3 separate regions of the Homo sapiens genome follow, and all the other regions are linked to region 3. Evidence: fine-mapped expression QTL. A gene starts in region 3. Each other region holds a variant in brackets. All regions are shown on one strand. Distances are between the middles of the regions.

Evidence for each region. PIP is the estimated chance that this variant, and not a neighbour inherited with it, causes the effect. A credible set is the group of variants that fine-mapping cannot tell apart.
Region 1: its variant is the best candidate, but not a certain one, in a credible set for the expression of PNPLA1 in monocytes after LPS (Kim-Hellmuth 2017, PIP 0.77).
Region 2: its variant is the best candidate, but not a certain one, in a credible set for the expression of PNPLA1 in whole blood (INTERVAL, PIP 0.85).

What each region holds. Positions count from the first base shown.
Region 1 is chr6:36,291,823-36,295,822 of GRCh38, reverse strand. It overlaps PNPLA1 (patatin like domain 1, omega-hydroxyceramide transacylase), which reads right to left. Exons shown (of 9, transcript NM_001374623.1): 3 at 2,697-2,762; 4 at 1,424-1,633; 5 at 399-459. Among named protein-coding and RNA genes, the nearest start is that of PNPLA1, 24 kb to the right of the region's middle. The variant C/T (reference allele first, on the strand shown) is at 2,206.
Region 2 is chr6:36,244,860-36,249,099 of GRCh38, reverse strand. LOC105375036 (a long non-coding RNA gene) reads left to right here and starts at 1,091. Exons shown (of 5, transcript XR_007059564.1): 1 at 1,091-1,167; 2 at 2,270-2,406; 3 at 3,804-3,974. It also overlaps a transcript of PNPLA1 not described here. RefSeq lists a silencer at 3,271-3,320. The variant C/T (reference allele first, on the strand shown) is at 2,386.
Region 3 is chr6:36,267,772-36,271,965 of GRCh38, reverse strand. PNPLA1 (patatin like domain 1, omega-hydroxyceramide transacylase) reads right to left here and starts at 1,906. Exons shown (of 9, transcript NM_001374623.1): 1 at 1,302-1,906. The coding sequence starts at 1,506. RefSeq lists an enhancer at 3,212-3,798.

The DNA.
Region 1 (4,000 bases), 24 kb before region 3:
CATCCAATTCTACATTAATAATGTGATTTTACTAGAAAGAGAATAAAGTGGAAGAGAATGAAATTACATGAAAATGGAATTCTCCAGGAAGATCTGAACTCTGGATTTCCTAAATAGAGTTTTTACATTCATAAGCATACATGCACAACTGTCCTAGACACTGTGCCCTTAGTTAACCCCAAAGCCCCCTTTACATGGAGATCCTACTTTCTGGACCCAGCGGTCTGGGCTGGGCGATGCAGCCTGTTAGGTCCCCACCCCCATTTCCAGCTCTCCCAGGTGAAGGGCGTCTCCGGGTCACAAATCTGGGGGGAATACCCCTCCATTCAGCCCTTCTACTGTTTGAACTTTCCCTACCCTCCAACACTGCCCTTACCTGGGGCCCCACCGGTACTTACTCAGCCGCCTCAAGTACAAAACTGCATCCTCGTACCCTCGGTAGTAGTAATCGTGCAGGATCTGTGGGCGGAGGCACCAGGAGAATTACCAAGGCTGCGGGGAGGAAGGGAGCCACAGTTCCCCCGACCCAGGGCAGCTACTCCCATTGCTCTTGAATTTTATTTGATGGGCTTTTCAAAACGTACCCATCCAGTGTCCCATCCCTCACTGTCTGCTAAGAAGAACCGAGGAGCAATTCCTGATCACACGCCCCAGTGATGCTCCGTTCATGAGTTACACCATTCATGGTGGAGCCTCGGCCTCCCCTGGGAGGAAAGTGTGGGGTGCTCATGGCAGAACCAGGTGCACTGGGGCCATATGAAGAGCAAAGTTTGGAGCCTGAGTTCAGGTCTCTGGGCTGCCCCTTATTGGCTGTGTTGCTGTCCCCTCTCACAGCCTCAATTTCTTCATCTATAAAATGGGGACAGTTATAATATTGATCATAGAGGATGCTAGAGGATTACATGAGCTACTGCCCACAAAGCCTTTTCTGTAAAGGGCCAGATAGTAAATACTTATTTTGGGCTTTGCTGGCCACATGCAGTCTCTGCCTAATGTTCTTTTTCTTTTTCTTCTTTTTTTCTTTCCCCCATAACTCTCTAAAAATGGAAAACCCTTTCTTAGCTCACAGGCTGTACAAAAACAAGCCATAGGCTAGATTTGGCCCGTGGGCTGCAGCTTGCCGACCTTTGATTTGGGACATGAACTGTCTGAATGGATGGGTTCAGTTAATATTTCTATCAGCACTTCTGGCATCATCTCGCTTTACCGGGGAGAATGTTGAAGCTGGGAGAGCTTGAGGCGCTTGTTCAAGGTCACATAGCTAGTTAGCAGCAAGGCCAGGATGCAGGTCTAGGAGGAAGTTTAAAGGACCATTTGAGGGGAGGAGACTCAGATGGAACTTGAGTGGGCCCCAGTGGCTCTCTAACCCCACCCCTAGTCCCTGGTACCTTCTGCTACTCCCCAGACCCCTCCTGCCTCTCACCACCAGGTCCGGGGGGAACAATGCGTGGGTCATCCTGGCGATGTTCTCCAGGGAGAACTGGAAGGAGCAGTTGAACATGCGGAAGTCGTGGAAGATGGCCGGGCAGTCCCGGGGACAGATGTCCTGCTGCCCACTGAAGGTGGAGATGGTGATGGCGTCGGTCCAGAAGGCACAGGGCTGCATGCCCGTGAAGCCCCCATCGATGTACCTCTGTGGGGGCAGAGTGAGAAATGCCCACTTGGGGCCAGAGTTCTCAGCCCCACTCGGGGTACATCGAAATGGCCCATGGGATATGGCACCAGCTTCAAGGGCCCATCAAGGAAGATCCAGAAGACCCCTCAGGATAAGCCTGGAGACGGAGGTCCTGGTGGGTGCGTGGTGTGCCCCTGGTCACTTAGTGAGTCTGCATTGGCCTCTGGACTCCCAGCCCGGTGCTCTGTCCTGCACTGATCCTCCCTCCACTATCTTAGTGGCGCTGAGACTGGGGCTCCCAGGGCTCTGTGTGCAGGGGACCCATACTCTGGGTAAAGCAGGAGACGTGCTCCTCTGCTACAGCCCCACCACCTGTTCACCCACAAGCCCCTTCCTTTCTGGGGCTTCTGTTTTCTCACCTATGAACGAAGGACAACAAATACTGAGGCTCTAACTCTCAGGGCTGGCTGACATGCAATACAAGCTCCATCTACTACCTGAATCCTAGTCTCTGGCCCTGACTTTCTCTGCATATAAAATGAGGAGGGGGCATGAGCTAGACCATCACCACTCAGAGTGTGGCCCACCCA[C/T]CAGCAGCACGGGCAGCACCTGAGGCTGGTTAGGGGCGCAGACCCTCAGGCACTGCCTCAGACCGCCTGGATCAGAACTTGCATAATTTTACGAGACCCCGAGTGATTCAAGGGCACATTAAAGTCTGTAAGGCCCTGGCCTACAGGCCTCAGAAAACATCCTCATCATTTGAGTTTCCAGGTCCCAGTGCTTCATCTCCTCTGCTCTGTCAAGTCTGGGAAAACCTGCCAAGCCTATGGAGCCTTGATTTGCCCGGCTTGGCAGTGGGTAGGTGGGTCCAGAGAGGAACCCACCCCAGCTGGAGAAGTTCATCTTAAAGGCCCAGAAAGCCACCTACATTGGGAATTCTGAGTAACAACATGAGAAACTCTCCAACTCTAGGTCCTCCCGCTGCATTCTGAGACCACCCCCCTGCTCCCCCAGGTGTGAGTCACAGGGACCCGAGGTCCCTTGGATCCCATCTCACCCCTCACCATGCCGAAGCACTCACCACACCGCGGTAAGTCGGGGGGATGAGGCCACAGTACACCGGGACGAAGCAGCTGCAGTATAGGGCCTGTGCGGAGAGAACAGGGCTGAGATGCTGGAGGCCCGGGGGTGGGGTGGGGACAGCTCACCTGTCAGCCCCTGGGCCACCCACCACCAGCCCAGACCTCCTTAAATTCTAGGTGAAGGTGCCACACTGGGAAGCAAAGCTCCGAGTTCAGTTCCTGGCCTGGCCTTCACTAATTGGGTCCTTGGTAACCTGCTTGGTCCATCTGGCCCTGATGTCCCAGCTTTAAAGCAGGAGGGGGTCCTCCATAGCTTCGGGGTTCCTTCTGATGCTGAACTTTCATGAATCCAGTGGGATTCAACAACCATTAATGTGTGTCAGCCCTGGGCCAGGCCCTGGAAGCAAAGGAGGCTGAGAGGCCCACCTTTGGGAGTGCCCTATGAGAGGGAGTGAGCAAGTGGGTGACGGTGCAGTGGGGTGACAGGGGCATGGTGGAGGTGAGCATGGGCACCGTGGCTCCACAAGAGGGGTGCAGGCAGGGTGGGAGGGGATGAAGGGAAGTGCCCTGGCAGGAGGGACTGGGTTTCAGCAGCAGGCAAAGCAGTGTGGGAAGGAGGGAGGGGATCCCAGGCAGAGGGAGCGGCAGGTGCAAAGACCCAGAGGCCTGGCTTGTGTGTGGTTTGCTAGGGTTGGCATGGTAGGAGTGGAAGGTGGGGGAGAGGGCCGGGAAGAGAAAACTGCAGCAGTGGGCAGTGAAGTCAGAACGGGGGTGGGCGTGAGGAGGCAGATCTGGAAGAGCTGGCTGCTGATAAACCCAGGGGGCCTGAGGGACGGAGGTGGTGTCTGTGCCCACTGCCTATTCATCCCTCATCCCCAGGATTACTGCCAGGCCAGTATGGGATGAGGATGGAGTGGCGAAGCCCCTGTATGTGGGGGAAGGAAGGAGAGTGGAGATGTGGGAAGGAGGCCACACAGCTTAACCCCTTTGTCCCGAAAGACACTGGGACCTACCTGCGGCCCTTTCCAGCAATCATTATTCATAACTAAAATTAATATTAATGAGCTTAGGGCAGCGCACTCAGGATTAGCGTGCACTTTTCTAAGTGTTAACTGATTTGGTAACCATTCAATCCCTTATCAAGGGCCACTGGAAGAGAGGGGGCAGAAAGGGGACATGGGGGCCCCTCTCCCCTGACCGTTCCCACAAAGTGGGAGTAATTCTGGGGGGATGCATGGCAGCCCAGCCTGGAAGGCCCTGAAGGAGACCCAGGCCCTCTGCAAGTCACACCTGGGCCTCTGGG
Region 2 (4,240 bases), 23 kb after region 3:
CCTCCTAGCTGTGGGATCCCATGACTAGGCCCCTAGCAAAAACTAAGCAGCACTAATGGACAGAAACACCTGGCATGAAGTGGGACTCTGTAAGAGCAAGTTACCTCTCCCCTGGCCTCTGCACCTTCCCCATTGGGCCTCTCTAGGGCAGATATGCAGCCAGCATCCAGTGCAACAAGCAGTGCCGACCTTGCCCACACCCCCCCTTTTTCAGAAGATGAAGTTCTTCTCAATAGGACTCAATCTTTTGGTGGGGGGACGTTTGCTTAAATTGAAAAGTTGGCCAGGTTCAGTGGCTCACACCTGTAATCTCAGCACTTTGGGAGGCTGACGTGGGCGGATCACCTGAGATCAAGAGTTCAAGACCAGCCTGGCCAACATGGTGAAACCTTGTCTCTGCTAAAAGTACAAAAATTAGCTGGGCATGGTGGCATGTGCCTGTAATCCCAGCTACTCAGGAGGCTGAGATAGGAGAATTGCTTGAATCCAGGAGGCACTTGCAGTGAGCCGAGATCGTGCCACTGCACTCCAGCCTGGGCGACAGAGCAAGACTCCGTCTCAAAAAAAAAAAAAAATGAGAAGTTATTTTGGTGTGGCATTTAAGACACCTAGGTAAGGTTATAAGCACGAGCCCGAGTGAAGCAGTGTTTGAATTTAGGCTGTGTCACTTCCTAATAATGTGTGTGGTTACGCAATTTCCTTGTGTCTCAATAAAATAGAAGTAATAATAACAGAGCCTCCCTCAGAGGGCTGTTGGAGGAGTAGATGAGGTGCTACATGCAGGGCCCTGAGAACTGTCCTGTCGCTCAGGAAGCAAGTTTTGCAGGTTCACCAGAGCCTTGTCGAATCCTTATATCTGTTCTCCACTGCATTTTTCTTTTATTTTATTATTATTTTTTTAAATCACCTCCCTTCCTCCCACAGCATTGTTCATCTGAGTGTTCGGTGTGGATTACACCAAACATTTTCTCTGCTTCTTTTAAGGGTGTGGACAATCGGGCAAGTGACTGCATGTGACAACAGAGAGAGGGCATGGTACACGGTGGCAGATGAGCCCGGGACTGGAGGCAGATCTGGGTTCCAGTTCGGGCTCTACCAGCAGCACCCATGTGTCCTTCTGTTCTCTGGGCCTCAATTTCCTGTTGTAAAATTCAGAACTTGGAAGAGGTAAGTGGTTAGGTCATTCCTGAGACATCCCAGATAATCACAGCCATCCAAACGTTGGCTCGGGAGCCCTGAGTAACCAAGACTGCAGGAAGCAACAGTTTAGTAAGGGTTCAGAATCCTGTGATTAGGGCTCGAGAATGAAATACTCTTCTAAGAGCTTCTCCCAGACCAAAAGGAGCTAATTAGGAAAGAATGGTGGCATTCTCTGGGCAAACTGGAGGAGCCCCTGGGCTTGGCCTCCTTATGCCTTCCTCCTTGACCCTCCTCTAGCCCCCTTGGACACAACACAACGTCCCCCCTCTGCTTTTTCCCCAGATACTATGGTAAACCTGCTCTCAGATCTTTCTCCACACCTAGAAAAATTCATTCATCGACTATACACTTTAATGAATATGCACTTACTATGTACCAGATATTCTTTGGCTGCTAGGGCAGAGCAGCAGGGACATAGCCCCTGTCCCCGTGGGGTCAACATGCTGGTGGAGGGAGTCAGAGGTAATAAAATAAGCAAGTAAGACACACAGTAGAGCAGGCAGAGTTGGCGGAGAACTGGATCTAACTGGGTTGGGGTTTTGCCAAGCAAGTACAGTCCAACTTGGAGTGTGGAGGGAAGGGTATAGAAAAGGTAGGGACTAGAATAACTAACCCTGGAATTTAGGCTGGGAAAGGAGGGAGTAGGGATTTGAAAGCGGGTGAGGTCAGTAGTCTGTGGGGCCCTGAGGGGCGATGGCTCCAAGGCACGAGCCGGAAAGAGGTTTGACAGTGGCTTCTCTGGAGGGCTCAAGCTTGACCAGGAAACTGAGTGCCGAGCCCTGGAAGATCACTGGGGAGAGGAGGTCAAAGAACTGGGAGGCCAGGGCACCATCGGCGGGCTGGTAAGTGGATGGTGAAACCACCAGGCAGGGGGCAGGAGGAGCTGGAGAGAGGACGCGAGATGGGAGCTAAAATCCTAAAATCCGCAGGGAGTGCGGAAAGCAGTGACAGCAGTGAGCGCGGGGAGGCTGGTCCTGAGTCTGGGATGGGGCGATGGCGTTCAAGAAGACATATTTAAGAGTACTATGTAATTTTACGTGTGGGAAGAACCTTTTGTTTTTGTAATTAGAACTACAGAAAGGGACAGAGCTGTTTATGTCATGAAAAGCAGGCCTGAGCATTAGAAGACTGAGAAACACCTGGGAGGATCTTGTTTCAACAGAGCTCAAAGCCGTGGCAAAAGGA[C/T]GGAGCTCGAATTGTGCAATTGTGAGTGACTCGAAGCTGGGTGGGAAAGCGTCTAGTTTCTTATGCATAAAGGACCTTCCTGTTGTCTCTGAAATCATACCAAGTAGATGCCACCATTTCAGCAGAGGCTTGAATTATACTGATAATGACAAGTTATCAGTATCATATAACTAATGTAATTGATTGATAGGAGGAGTTAAGGACACGGGATCTGGCCGGGCACCATGGCTCACACCTGTAATTCCAGCACTTTGGGAGGCCAAGGTGGGCGGATCACTTGAGTTCAAGAGTTCAAGATCGGCCTGGGCAACATGGCCAGGCAACATGTAAAAATACAAAATTTAGCTGGGTGTGGTGGTGGGCGCACCTGTAATCCCAACTACTTGGGAGGCTGAGATGGGAGAATCATTTGAACCTGGGAGGTGGAGGGTGCAGTGAACTGTGATTGTACCACTGCACTCCAGCCTGGGTGACAGAGTAAGACCTCGTCAAAAAAAAAAATCCAAAAATGTGGGATCTGTTTAAACCCTGGCTCTGCTCCCTGCTACTCATTACCCTCATCTGTGCAGCAGGGGTGATACCAGCCCTCACCCCTCTGTTTCTGAGAAGTAGATGAGCGTGTATGTGCACAGAGACCTGCCTGCAGTGTTGTGAGGACTCACAAAATGTTGGCTAGATATCCTAATCTTTCTCATGTTTGTTGGCAAACAAAAACAGGCTGAGATGGCCCTGTGCCATTCGTATATCTGTGTGTGGAATAACAGACAGTATAAAGCTGAAAAGCAGGTCCCTCCCTGGCTAATTGCATTTCAGCAGCCGCTGGGAGGCAGTGTGGCGGGGGGCGGGGAGTGAAACTGTGCGGGGAGTCAGGGAGCCTGGGTTTCCTCCTCAGCCAATGAGGCCAAGGCCAAATCAGGATGTCCCTGAGCCCCTGTTTGCCTACCTGTAACGTGGGGATGACGGTTCCTGCCAGGTACCCACAAGGCTGTTGTGAGGACTGAATGAGGAAATGCTCCTTGAAGATAAATGACAATGCCACAGAAGAGCGGATGCAGCTCCCCTGTGCTGAGTACTCACCTACTGTGTGCTGGGCACAGGGGCAGAGCCACCCACCCCTCCCTGCAGCAGTGCCTGGAAGGCAGGACCAGCATCCTGATAGCCAGAGTTGAGACAGAGTTTAAGGGCCTGCCAGGCATAACTCCCTCGCCAGGCATAGAAATAAAGGAACATCTTGAGTTCTTTCAAGGGAAGTTCCAGGCACCTAGCTAGCCCTGAGAGTAAATGAACAACATGATAAGCAAGAAGGAAATAATAGCTTTTCAAAAAAAATAGCCAAGGAAGTTAGAGTCACAAAATACTTGGTTCCCTATTGAAACTTAAGATAACATCTTAATATATGTTCCTGAGTTGTTTTTCAGAAACCCAGGCCCCCAGCAAATGGAAAATGCCATCCACTGGCACAGAGACTTCAGTTGGGAGCCGAGGACTGAACTCAGACCACCATTCTTTGTTCAACATTTCTTCCTGAGGGGCCTGGAGGAAGTCACACCCACAGGCCAGAGCTCAACATTCCTTTCTGCTGACCCCAGGTTTTTAGACAAAGCTTTGCCTCCTTAACCAATCACAAATCAGAGGATCTTTGAATCCACCTATGACCTGCGGGCCCCGCTTCGAGATGTCCCACCCTTTTAGGTCAAACCAATGCACAGTTTCCATGTATTGATTTATGACTTTGCCTGTAACCTCTGCCTCCCTGCCTTTAAAAACCCTTACCTGTGAGCCACCCTGGAGTTCGGGGCTTAAGCATGAGCTGCCCGATTCTCCTTGCTTGGCACCCTGCAGTAAATGCCTCACT
Region 3 (4,194 bases):
TATTAGGAGCTCCCATTTGTGGACGGAGAAACAGAGGCGCAGAACGTTCAATAACTTACTTCAGGCATGCATCATGAAATGGCAGAGCTGGGATCCCACCTGAGGAGCTCACGCCCTCTGCCCCCTCCCCACTTGCTGTCACAGCCGTCTGTGCTCCCCCTCCCTTAGGTGAGATGAGAGCTTGTGGCTAAGGCCACATGACCTGGCCCCTGTTGACCTCCCACCACCTTTTCCACACCGCAGGCTTCGTGGCTGCTCCTCCACCAGGAATTCTCCTTTTCAGGAGCTCCCAGTAGCTTGTTCTATCACTATACCCAGCTCTAGGCTTGAATGTCACCTCCTCAGAAAGGCTTCCCTGACCACCTTCCTGAAATAGTCTCCATTTCATTCTCAGTCCCTTTCCTGCTTTAATTTTATTCATAGATCATATCACTTCCCGACCTCACACTAGAAGGTGCCTTGTTTGAATGTTTATTATCTGTTTCTTTTCTCTAGAATTTCTGCTCCACAAGGGCGGGGACCTTGTCCTCAGTGCCTGGAACAGAGCTCTGTCTAGAATAGGAGCTCTGTAAATGAATAAATGCCCCTCCAAGGTAGCTCACTAGGCTGTTGGGCTTGTTCCTTGGGGCTGCTAGATGCATCTGCTGTCCGGGACAGTGTTTCTCTCTCTGGGTTAGCAGTGTAGCAGTTCTTCTCGCTGAGGCTCCTGGACCAGCAGGACAGAAGGTGAAGTGAGAGCTTCTGTATTCTCTCCCCACCCCTTCCTATTCTTCTCCCACTCTGGGCTCCCTCCTGTCTACCCCTCCAGCCTCAGGGCGTTCATCTTTCCAGCCACCTGGAAATGGTGGACAATACGTCCCCATCAGGGTGATAGAGATTTGAAGAGTTGCCTCTCCCAAGGGTATTTGCATTTTGAAAGAGGCCAGGCAGGAGCAACACTGAACCCCAATGTATGACTGTGCCGTGGTGTAGCTTCTGACAGCACCATGTTCGATGTTCGAGGGAGATACTGTCCTTTACTCTCCCAGGCACTGGGAGACAGAGCATCTCACAGGTAAGGGCACTGAGGGAGAGGGACAGGGGTCCAGGCTCACCCTGCATGTTAGAGTCTGGGGCCTGGCAGACCCCAACCTTCAAACGTCACAGCTGCCGCTATCCTACTCCAACCAGCTCTTCCCTTCCCTTCCTGCCACCCAGGCCTGGCTTTGTCCCCCAAAGCATCCCCAGCCTCCCTCACGCTCCTTCTGTCTCTGTGGAATCCCCCAAGAGACTTCCCAGGGGACCCAGAACACAGGCCTCACCCATTTCAATCCCGCAGATGGCCAGGGCGGCGATCACAGCACCTGCCGATGTCCCCGCAAAGCGGTGGGCTGTTTCCAGCATCCGGGGGGCCAGGTCCCGCAGGGCGTCCACAGCCCCCGCCTGGTAGAAGGAGAGGAATCCACTGCCCGAGAAGGAGATGGAGTGAGGGGTGTCCGGGTCCCCCTTGAACACCTGTTCTTCCATCTCCTCGGCCTCTGACTTTCTGCGGAAGGCGGAGCCACCCTTCAGCACTTGCCTGCCCGAGCCTGGGCTGCCGCTCCCTGTAGGAACTCCCTACCCAGCTTCCCTGCCACCCCGGAGCTTGGAATGTGGCTGTCTCTACCCGGCTGGAGCAACCACAGGCTGCTCAGGAAGCTGCCTCAGCCTGTTAAGCTCCGCCAGGAGGCAACTCCAAAGGTTGGAAAGGGGCCCCAGAATGAGATGCAGAAGGCTCCCCCGGTGTGTGAGCAGGGTCTTGGTCCTGTGAGCCCCCCACTGGCTTCATTTCTTGGCTAGATTCATCTCGGGCACGGGATCCTCAGCCCTCTGCCCATCCATGGTATACCAGGGCGCATTCACTGCTCCCCAGCACAGGGCCATGCCCAAGGAGGCGGGCTCTGCCCAGCCCTCAGCTGCAACATTCAGTTGCAAAACCTCCGTGATGGTTATCGGTGTACACCTCCCTCCCCAACATGCTGCTGCGGCCGTGAAGGGCTTCCAAGCCCGCCTCCCTCCAGGAGGACGGTGCCTACCCCATCTCTTTTGGACGGGTCCCCCAAAAGAGATGCCCCTCCTGGGCTCCTTCAGGCTATGTGGTATGTGTGATGTGTTACACAAGCATTTTTATTTGTTTTTCTTACATAAACACCCCTTTGTTTATTCACTTGTTTATTTACATGTTAGCATTGGCCCTGGGTAAAATTTTAAGAGAAGTGTGACTTTGGCGGCCCCACCCACCACCGCCTCTGCACCTCTCTCTGTTTCTTCTCCTGGGCCCTTCACTGACCCTGTGACCTTGGTCAGTGCCCTCTCGACAAGCCCCAAGCCCTCATGCTATCTTCTAAGTGTGCAGGAAGAAATCAACCTGAAATCTAGATCATTCTAAGTGTGTGAGGCTTCGTGTTGCGTGTTCTTCTTCCCGCTCAGAAATGAGAAGTTTGAGATAGCAATGTTTAACCCCAAGGAGGAGCAGCTGGGGAGGTCACCTGTGGGGACGTCGGGGTCAGGGCAGAGAGACGTTTTGGTAAGGGAGGTGGTGTGAGAGGACCAGGGTTAGCTCCAGGGGCTGCGGTTCTGCCCCCTGAGGGGCTGTATCATGTGGTCCTGATGGGGAGGAGTGGTTCTCACACCCACAAAATGTCCCCTCATGGAGATATAACAAAGAAGGCAAGATGGCGTCTCCCGCTCCCCTCAAAGACCACACAGCAACAGGACCAGAATCAGAATCAAGACACCAAGGCCTCCACCAAGTGCCAATCCAGGATGTGACATCAGTGGCTTCCCCGCTTCTGGGGAGCTTGCACCATTCTGGTGGACTCACTTATCTGCATGGGAATTCCACAGTGAGGGCAAGGCCAGGCTTCAGTTAGGAGGGAGTTTTCTGTCTTGGGTAGGTAATTCCAGGCATATCATTGCCTCAGGTTGAAAAGAGAGCTTTAGATTAGATAAAGTGTGTGTGCGTACATGCGTGTGTATGCATGTGTGCATGTGTGTGCAGATATCTGAGGCATACTGCTGGGGTGGGGGCGGGTGTGTCAGGGTGGAGTCCAGTCAGCTTTTGGACAGCAGAGACCCTGCCCCCTTCCTGGGAGGTGAGGTCAGCTCCACTGAGGGCTTGTGTGCCAAGCCCTGTGCTGTGTCGGGGCCCTGGGGGACAGGAGCACACAGAAGCTCCATCCCCAAATCAGATATTTGCAGGCTTCTTGGGAACAAGACAGGCAAATGTGAAATAAGCAGAAAACTGTACAAGGCAATCTATAATTAAGTACTAAACTGTGCAGGGCTGAGATTCCTGCCAGAAAAGTTAGGAGGCGGGGCTGAGCAGTGTGGGCTGGAACATCTGAGGAGCTGTGCGGCGGAGGTGTGGGCTGCGGGACTGGAGGCAGCTGGGAGGAGCAGGCAGGCACTGGTCGAGGAGCAGCAAGAGCCCCTTGCAGAGAAGGGAAGGGGTGTAATGGGACCTGTTTCACAGGATGAAGGGCTTTGGATGAGAACCCTTCTGAGTCATGACATTGGATCCCAACTCTGCTATTTACAGGCAGTGTGACCTGTGCATGATCTCTCTGGGCCTCAGTTTTCCTCATCTGTGAAAGGGACAATACTGTCATTCCTATGCTGCACAGTAGCTGTAAAGGCTAAAGGTAATGGCTGTAGGACGCCTGGCACACGGCACGTCTGTGGTTATCAGAGGGTAGTAAGAGTCAAGGCTTCTGGAACAGATAGACCCCAGAGATAAGGTGGAATAGAAAGGCAGGGTCCAAAGGGGAAGGCTTGATCCACATGCGACATGAGGAGGAGCTTGGAGAGGTCTCAAGATGCAGAGCCTTGGAAGGAAGATGAGACTGGGGCTGGAGAATGAGGAAGGAGGATGGTGGCCCATTCTCCTAGGATGATGGTGGCCAGGCCAGGGTGGCAGCTGCAGGAAGACAAGTTAATGAAGTTATTGCTGCAGAAGACTCTCAGGGCCAGGGACTGGTTGGATGGGCAGGGTGAGTCAAGGCTGAGGCCTCACTTTTAGCCTGGGGGTAGGGAGGAGTGGGGCTGCCTCCTGCAGAGTTGGGGAAACTGGAACAGACCTGGGGAAGCTGGGTGGAGGATGATTTTACTTTAAGATGCATCTGAGATGACAGCAAGACATGGGCACTATCCATGGGGGGGGCAGGGATGGCACCA